2 separate regions of the Homo sapiens genome follow, and region 2 is linked to region 1. Evidence: fine-mapped expression QTL. A gene starts in region 1. The other region holds a variant in brackets. All regions are shown on one strand. Distances are from middle to middle.

Region 1 (4,403 bases):
CTCTTGATGGGCACTGACCCCAACAACAGGCCTGGGCACAGGTCCAGCACTTAACTCAGAGGGATGCCGTGTGCTGCTGCATGGTCTGTTACCAACATCTCATAGAAGAGAGCAGAAACCACTTAGGAACACAGCTGATTTAGGAAGGTTTTTCTAAACACACATAGTTTAGGAAGGTTTTTCTCTTAATTAAGATTTATCTTTCTGATGGAACCAGATGACAGGGAGATAGATGCCTGCATGGTGAGCGTTTTCATATATTACCTCTTAATTCTCACAACAACCTGATGAGGAAGGTGTTATTATCCAACTTTAAAGTAATTTTCCAAAGTCATATAGCTCCTAAATCTAAAGATTTTGTTATTTTTTAAATACTAAAATTGTCCCATACCACCAATATGCACAATGTGCAGTGGATGACTATCCGCTCAGAAATGGCCAACAAATAGGTAACAAGTTTGTAATTCCAGATTAATCTCTGTCACCTCCAACTAGTGACTAGTCTTTTTATTTTCCAGTTTTTACAAAACTTTAATTTTTGAATTGATAGATTATATTTGTACATATTTATGGGGCACATGTGATATTCTGTTACATGCATAGAATGTACAATGATATTGTTACATGCATAGAATGTGTACTGATAAAGCATACATAGACGCACAGATAAGTGCATAAAATGTGTAATGACTAAAGTCAGGGTATTTAGGGTATTCCAAAGCCAAAATTGAGTGCTTACTCATTTGCCTCACTGCAATAGAGAGTCTAATGTCAACATTCTAAAAGTTAGGTGTACTATGAATACTACTTCATCTGAATGCACCAAAGGATAATCTCCGAAAATATTCCTTTACCTGGACAGGGTGGGGGAAGGAAGCGAGAGATGTGGAGAGAGACGGAGCGACGTCCTGGCCCTCTGTGACCTCCGTGCCAGGAAGAGGGACCCAGGATGTTTGAGAGTTTTGCTACCAGCCTTAAGCACCGAGAGAGGTGTCACTCAGTGCGCAGCTGCACCGGCTAAGTTTTTTAGACGCGTTGCCCTCGGCAGCGGGTTTGGACCCAAGGTCGCGTCGACACTGGCCTCAGCATCTGACCGCGGGCGGAGCCCAGGTGCGCGCGAGGCCCTGCCACCCTCCCTCGCCCGCGGGCGCTTCTCCCTTGCCGGAACCGCCCGGCCCCGCCCGAGGCCTGCCCCGGGAGCCCCGCGGCGAGTGTCGCCACGCTCACCTCCTCGCTGTGCGTGGACGGGCACTTCTTCCGCAGGCGGCCCCAGTTCAGCAGGTTCCCCGTCTGCAGGTGCAGGGTGCGGGCCCGCGCCAGGAGCGCCTTGGCCGCGCGGCTGTCGGTGCCCATGGCAGCGGCCGCCCAGGGGCCGCGCAGCGAAGGGGCTGCGGGCGGGCGGGCAGGCAGGCGGCCGCCCCACAGGACGCGGTGCCCGAGGCCCGAGAGAGACCCGAGAGGGAGCGCGAGGCTGCCGGCGCCGCGCGGCTGGAGCCTGGTCTGCGCTCGGGCCCGAGGGAGGCCGGACGGCGGCTGGGCGGCGGCGGGAAAGGAAGGCACCGGTGGCTGCGGCTCCGGCTCCGGCTACTGCGGCCGCAGCGGGAGAGCTGATTCCAAACTGAGGGAGCTGTTTCCTGGAAGACAATGACTAAGCAGAAATCGTAGCCGAGAAAGTGCTTCGTAACCGTTACTCATCCCGCGGCGGGGCAGGGGCGGGGCGCGAATGGGCTGCGGGACGCCGGCCCGCAAGTGACTGGCCCTTGGCCTGCGGCGGGCGTGGCGACGGGTGGTGCGCGGCGGGCGCGCGGGTCGAGAGAGCGTGGCGGCGCGGCCCGGAGCGCAGCGCGCGGCAGGGCTCCCCCTGGCGGTCAGAGGACAGCGCGAGGCAGACACCGCCTCCGCCTGGTGAGGTAGACACCGCCTCCGCCTGGTGAGGTCTCCCGGCGTTCAGGTCGCGGCTCCGCCCACGGCCGCCCCAGGGTGGGCTTCCTACACGTCTCTTTAAAGGGCAGCCTGAGCGGCCACCGGGACTCGGAAATGCTACGTAGTTTTCGTTCTCAGAAGCAGCTGTTTATGCGCAAGCGCCCCCTTCTTCTTTTCGCTTTGCTACCTTCAAGGACCTTCTCCCAAACTGCTAATTTTTCTTCATCCGTTAAAGGTCTATTGATTCACATTATTTGCTGGCAGTGTGTGAAGTCAACGAACAAGACTGAGTCTTTGCCCTTGAGACGCGTACACTCTACCCAGAGACAAGTTCTAAGCACAGGAAACAAGTAATTTTATAAGAACATCATAGGGCAGTTATTCTCCAGATGAATTCAGATTAAAGAGGACACTTGAGCCGGTGAGATCACAGAAAGCTTTTATCACCCACCCCTTTAGAGGTGGTCGAGATTATTTACCCCTATTAAATTTCACGTGTGGTGGTGGACTCGGTATAAACATCAAATTGAACATGTATTGAGCTTTCCTCAACAATCTTTCACATTCGTTGAGGTGAATCAGATTATTAAAGGCAAAATGAGATTCTCATTATAAGCGGGGACAATATAGCTATTGAAAAGAGAGATGAACCAGTTGGTAAAATGGTAAGAATTAGGGGAGGGATGGGAAAAAAGATCTTTCTAGGAAGTTAGAAATTGAGCCTGATGTTGAGTAAATATTTGTTGGCTGAATGAATGATGGTAAGAGTTCATTGAACGAGCTTGCGCTGCTTTTTTTTTTTTTTTTTGGATATTGATTTTTTATTATAGTGAAAGAGCTACCCACAAGCACCACCACTACTTAAACACATTTTGATGCACTGTAACATACAATTAACATTTGTTGTAAATAATTCCAACATATACAAAAATAGCAAGAATACTATAATGAAACCCGATATAACTATCTTCTGAACTCAAGATTGAATAAGATTTGTCTATACTTTTTGTTTTATAATACTTTAAGTTCTAGGGTACATGTGCACAATGTGCAGGTTTGTTACATATGTATACAAGTGCCATGTTGGTTTGCTGCACCCATTAATTCGTTATTTACATTAGGTATTTCTCCTAATGCTATCCCTCCGCCAACCCCCCACCCCATGACAGGCCCCAGTGTGTGATGTTTCCCACCCTGTGTCCAAGTGTTCTCATGGTTCAATTCCCACCTATGAGTGAGAACATGCAGCGTTTGGTTTTCTGTCCTTGCGACAATTTGCTCAGAATGATGGTTTCCAGCTTCATCCATTCCCTACAAAGGACATGAACTCATCCTTTTTGATGGCTGCATAGTATTCCATGGTGTGTATGTGCCACATTTTCTTAATCCAGTCTATCATTGATGGACATTTGGGTTGGTTCCAAGTCTTTGCTATTGTGAATAGTGCCAAAATAAACATACCTGTGCATGTGTCTTTATAGTAGCATGATTTATAATCCTTTGGGTATATACCCAGTAATGAGATCGCTAGGTCAAATGGTATTTCTAGTTCTAGGCCCTTGAGGAGTCACCACACTGTCTTCCACAATGTTGAACTAGTTTACACTACCACTGACAGTGTAAAAGTGTTCCTAGTTCTCCACATCCTCTCCAGCACCTGTTGTTTCCTGACTTTTTAATGATTGCCATTCTAACTGGTGTGAGATGGTATCTCATTATGGTTTTGATTTGCATTTCTCTGATGACCAGTGATGATAAGCATTTTTTCATGTGTCTGTTGGCTGCATAAATGTCTTCTTTTGAAAAGTGTCTGTTCATATACTTTGCCCACTTTTTGATGGGGTTGTTTGATTTTTTCTTGTAAATTTAAGTTCTTTGTAGATTCTGGATATTAGCCCTTTGTCAGATGGGTAGATTGCAAAAATTTTCTCCCATTCTGTAGGTTGCCTGTTCACTCTGATGGTAGTTTCTTTTGCTGTGCAGAAGCTCTTTAGTTTAATTAGATCCCATTTGTCTATTTTGGCTTTTGTTGCCATTGCTTTTGGTGTTTTAGTCATGAAGTCCTTGCCCATGCCTATGTCCTGAGTGGTATTTCCTAGGTTTTCTTCTAGGGTTTTTATGGTTTTAGGTATAACATTTAAGTCTTTAATCCATCTTGAATTAATTTTTGTATAAGGTGTAAGGAAGGGATCCAGTTTCAGCTTTCTACATATGGCTAGCCAATTTCCCCAGCACCATTTATTAAATAGGGAATCCTTTCCCCATTTCTTGTTTTTGTCAGGTTTGTCAAAGATCAGATGGTTGTAGATGTGTGGTGTTATTTCTGAGGCCTCTATTCTGTTCCATTGGTCTGTATCTCTCTTTTGTACCATGCTGTTTTGGTTACTGTAGCCTTGTAGTATGGTTTGAAGTCAGGTAGCATGATGCCTCCAGCTTTGTTCTTTTTGCTTAGGATTGTCTTGGCAATGCAGGCTCTTTTT
Region 2 (4,403 bases), 23 kb after region 1:
AAAATCGGCATACAAGGGACATACCTCAATGTAATAAAAGCCATCTATGACAAATCCACAGCCAACATAATACTGAATGGGGAAAAATCAAAAAGCATTCCCTCTGAGAACTGGAACAAGATAAGGATGCCCACTCTCACCACTCCTCTTCAACATAGTAATGGAAGTCCTAGCCAGAGCAATCAGACAAGAGAAAGAAATAAAGGGCATCCAAATTGGTAAAGAGAAAGTCAAACTATCACTGTTTCCTGACGATATGATAATTTATCTCGAAAACCCTAAAGACTCCTCCAGAAAGCTCCTAGAACTGATAAAATAATTCAGCAAAGTTTCTGGATACAAGATTAATGTACACAAATCAGTAGCTCTTCTATATACCAACAGTGACCAAGCAGAGAATCAAATCAAGAACTCAACCCTTTTTACAATAGCTGCAAAAAATAAAATAAAATACTTAGGAATATACCTAACCAAGGAGGTGAAAGACCTCTACAAGGAAAACTACAAAACATTGCTGAAATAAATTGTAGATGACACAAACAAATGGAAACACATCCCATGCTTGTAAATGAATAGACTCAATATTGTAAAAATGACCATACTCCCAAAAGCAATCTACAAATTCAATGTAATCCCCATCAAAATACCACCATCATTCTTCACAGAATTAGAAAAACAATTCTAAAATTCATATGGAACCAAAAAAGAGCTTGCATAACCAAAGCAAGATTAAGCAAAAAGAACAAATCTGGAGGCATCATACTACCTGATTTCAAACTATACTATAAGGCCATAGTCACCAAAACAGCATGGTACTGGTATAAAAATAGGCACATAGACCAATGGAACAGAATAGAGAATCTGGAAATACACCCAAATACTTACAGCCAACTAATCTTTGACAAAGCAAACAAAAACATAAGGTGGGGAAAGGACTCTCTTTTCAACAAATAGTGCTGGGATAATTGGCTAGTCACATGTAGGAGAATGAAACTGGATCCTCATCCCTCACCTTATACAAAAATCAACTCAAGATGGATTAAGGACTTAAATCTAAGACCTGAAACTGTAAAAAATATAGAGGATAACCTTGGAAAAACCCTTCTAGACATTGGCTTAGGCAAGGATTTCATGACCAAGAACCCAAAAGCAAATGCAATAAAAAGAAATATAAATAGCTGGGACTTAATTAAACTGAAGAGCTTTTGCATGGCAAAAGGAACAGTCAGCAGAATAAACAGACAACCCACGGAATGGGAGAAAAATCTTCACTGTCTACGCATCTGACAAAGGACTAATATCCAGAATCTACAACAAAGTCAAACAAATTGGCAAGAAAAAAATATCCCATCAAAAAGTGGGCTAAGGACACGAATAGGCAATCTTCAAAAGAAGATATGCAAATGGCCAACAAACATATGAAAAGATGCTCAACATCACCAGTGATCTGGGAAATGCAAATCAAAACCACAATGCGATACCACCTTACTCCTGCAAGAATAGCCGTAATCAAAAAATTTAAAAAAGCAGATGTTGGCATGGATGCAGTAATCAGGGGACACTTACACACTGTTTGTGGGAATGTAAACTGTAACAGCCACTGTGGAAAACAGTGTGGAGATCCCCTAAAGAACTAAAAGTAGAACTACCATTTGATCCAGTAATCCCACTACTGGGTATATACCCAGAGGAAAAGAAGTCATTATATGAAAAAGATACTTGCACACACATGTTTATAGCAGCAATTTGCAATTGCAAAATC[G/A]TGGAACCAACCCAAATGCCCATCAATCAATAATGAGTGGATAAACTGTGAGATATATATATATATATATATATATATATATATATATATATATGATGGAATACTACTCAGCCATAAAAAGGAATGAATTAATGGCATTCCCAGCAACCTGGATGAGATTGGAGATTATTATTCTAAATGAAGTAACTCAGGAATGGAAAACCAAACATCGTTATGTTCTCACTGATATGTAGGAGCTAAGCTATGAGGACACAAAGGCATAAGAATGATACAATGGACTTTGGGGACTTGGGGGTAAGAGTGGGAGTGTGGGGGCGAGGGATAAAAGACTACAAATAGGGTGCAGTGTATACTACTCAGATGATGGGTGCACCAAAATCTCACAAATCACCATTAAAGAACTTACTCATATAAACTGCTGGGTGTGGTGGCTCACGCCTGTAATCTCAGCACTTTGGGAGGCTGAGGTGGATGAATCACCTGAGGTCAAGAGTTTGAGACCAGCCTAGCCAACGTGGTGAAACCCCATCTCTACTAAAAATATAAAAATTAGCCGGGCGTGGTGTCACATCCCTGTAATCCCAGCTACTTGGGAGGCTGAGGCAGGAGAATCGCTCGAACCCGGGAGGCAGAGGTTGCAGTGAGCTGAGATCACGCCATTGCACTCCAGCCTGAGCGACGAGAGCAAAACTCCGTGTCAAAAAACAAAAAACAAACAAACGAAAAAAAAAAACTCATGTAACCAAACACCACCTGTACCCCAGTAACCTATGGAAAAATAATAAAAATAAATAAATAAAAAACATTATTACCAGCACATAGGCAGTGATGATGACATTATAAAATTTGATCATCAACTATCAGGGCCACTGATTGACCCATTTCAGTTCAAATTAAAAGATTTAGGAAAGTTTCTACTATTCCAGCTCAAGCATCAAATAGTAAATGCAGTGTGTTAATACCTTTGTGGTTTGTCAAGATTAATGAATGTAGACAGTAAGGTAAAATGGCTGAGTAAGCTTTAGACTATAAATCTAAAGAGAGATTGAGCTCTCTTTTTACCAAGTCTTGTGGTGAATATTTAAAGTGAATTGCAAACTCAAAAGAGCTGCTCTAATTCTTCCAGGGTTTCTCCCACCTTTTTTCCCTTGATGGCAGAAGTAGATTAAACCCAGTTGATTAGAGTTAGCAGTTAACTAACTCTCTGCGGGATTGGATGCCACTGATCTGTCTAGTAAGGATTTAGCTTAATTAAGGTGTTTGATTTGCATTCTGCTGATGTAAGATAGAGTCTTGTGTCCTTATTTTTCAGGAATTAAGTATGGAGTACTTTCTTAGTCTTTTTTTTTTTTTGTAGAGACGAGGTCTCGCTATGTTGGCCAGGTTGGTCTTGAACTCCTGGCCTCTAGTAATGCCTTGAACTGTCTTGGTCTCTCAAAGTGCTAGGATTACAGGCATGAGTCACCATGCCCAGCCTTAGTGATCTGAAGGTTCTTGGTCTGTCTAAATTAAATTCCTAGTCCAGTGTTGAGAATATTGGTGCAAGTCAGAGGGAAAAAGGTTGATAGTATAACAAGTAATGATAGAAAGAATGTTTTGTATTTTTGAATTGTCTCTTTGTTTTCATGTTGTTGGTTGTTGGGAATATTGTTAATGATGCTCAACATCACTAACAATTGTATATAAAAATGTAAGTTGAATAATGCATGATAACTATAAATTTTGGTATAATAATGCTATTTTGGGGGTTAATTCCAGAATAATGATTAATTTGGGTAAAAATCCTGTAAGTGGTGATTGTAACCCTAAAGATAATAGGATTATAAGGATTGTGGAAGTTATTAGTGATAATTTATTTTATGTATGTGGAAGTGATAATGTTGTGATAGTTGTGTTTAAACTGAATATTATGAATACAGTAATTTTTAGTATAATGTAAATTCGTAGACAAGATTATTGTAATTGATGAATAGGTTAAGTTTTTTTGTCATTGTGTCTGATTTAGTCCTCAGCCTCCTACAAGAATTAATATTATAGCAATGATTGGTATTATGTTTAGGTCAATTGATGATACTTGGAGTAGAATTGAAATTGGTACCCGTTTTGGTCATGTTAATGGGATTATGCCTGATATTAGTGGATTTCCTTCTGTTATTTCTGGGACTCAAAAATGGAATGGGGAGAGTCCAAGTTTTATAACTAGTGCCACAGTAATTATTAGGGATGCTGTTGGGTTGGGGATTTTTATGATTGTTCATTACCCAGAGTATAATGTATTAATAATAATAGCAAGTTATTCAGAAGATTTGGCTAAGGTCATTGATGAAGGTAGCTATGCTAAACAACATTTTCAATGTACATGAAACAGCCTTATATCAGAAGAAGATGCCATCTAGGACTTTCATAGCCAGAGAGGAGAAGTCAATGCCTGGCTTCAAAGCTTCAAAGGACAGGCTGACTCTCTTGATAGGGCCCAATGCAGCAGGTAATTTTAAGGTGAGGCCCATGCATTTACCATTGTGAAAATCCTAGGGCCCTTAAGAACTCTCCTAACTCTACTCAGCCTGTGCTCTATAACTGGAACAACAAAGTCTAGGTGACAGCACATCTGTTTACAGAATGGTTTACTGAATATTTTAAG

What was found. PIP is the estimated chance that this variant, and not a neighbour inherited with it, causes the effect.
Region 2: its variant is the best candidate, but not a certain one, in a credible set for the expression of GCLM in whole blood (TOPMed, PIP 0.52).

Annotation. Positions count from the first base shown.
Region 1 is chr1:93,907,811-93,912,213 of GRCh38, forward strand. GCLM (glutamate-cysteine ligase modifier subunit) reads right to left here and starts at 1,620. Exons shown (of 7, transcript NM_002061.4): 1 at 1,228-1,620. The coding sequence starts at 1,353. It overlaps LOC124904221 (a long non-coding RNA gene), which reads left to right and starts at 1,782. Exons shown (of 2, transcript XR_007066230.1): 1 at 1,782-2,344. RefSeq lists silencers at 1,034-1,083, 1,134-1,493, 1,704-1,943 and an enhancer at 1,984-2,143.
Region 2 is chr1:93,931,192-93,935,594 of GRCh38, forward strand. No RefSeq gene overlaps it. Among named protein-coding and RNA genes, the nearest start is that of GCLM, 24 kb to the left of the region's middle. The variant G/A (reference allele first, on the strand shown) is at 1,763.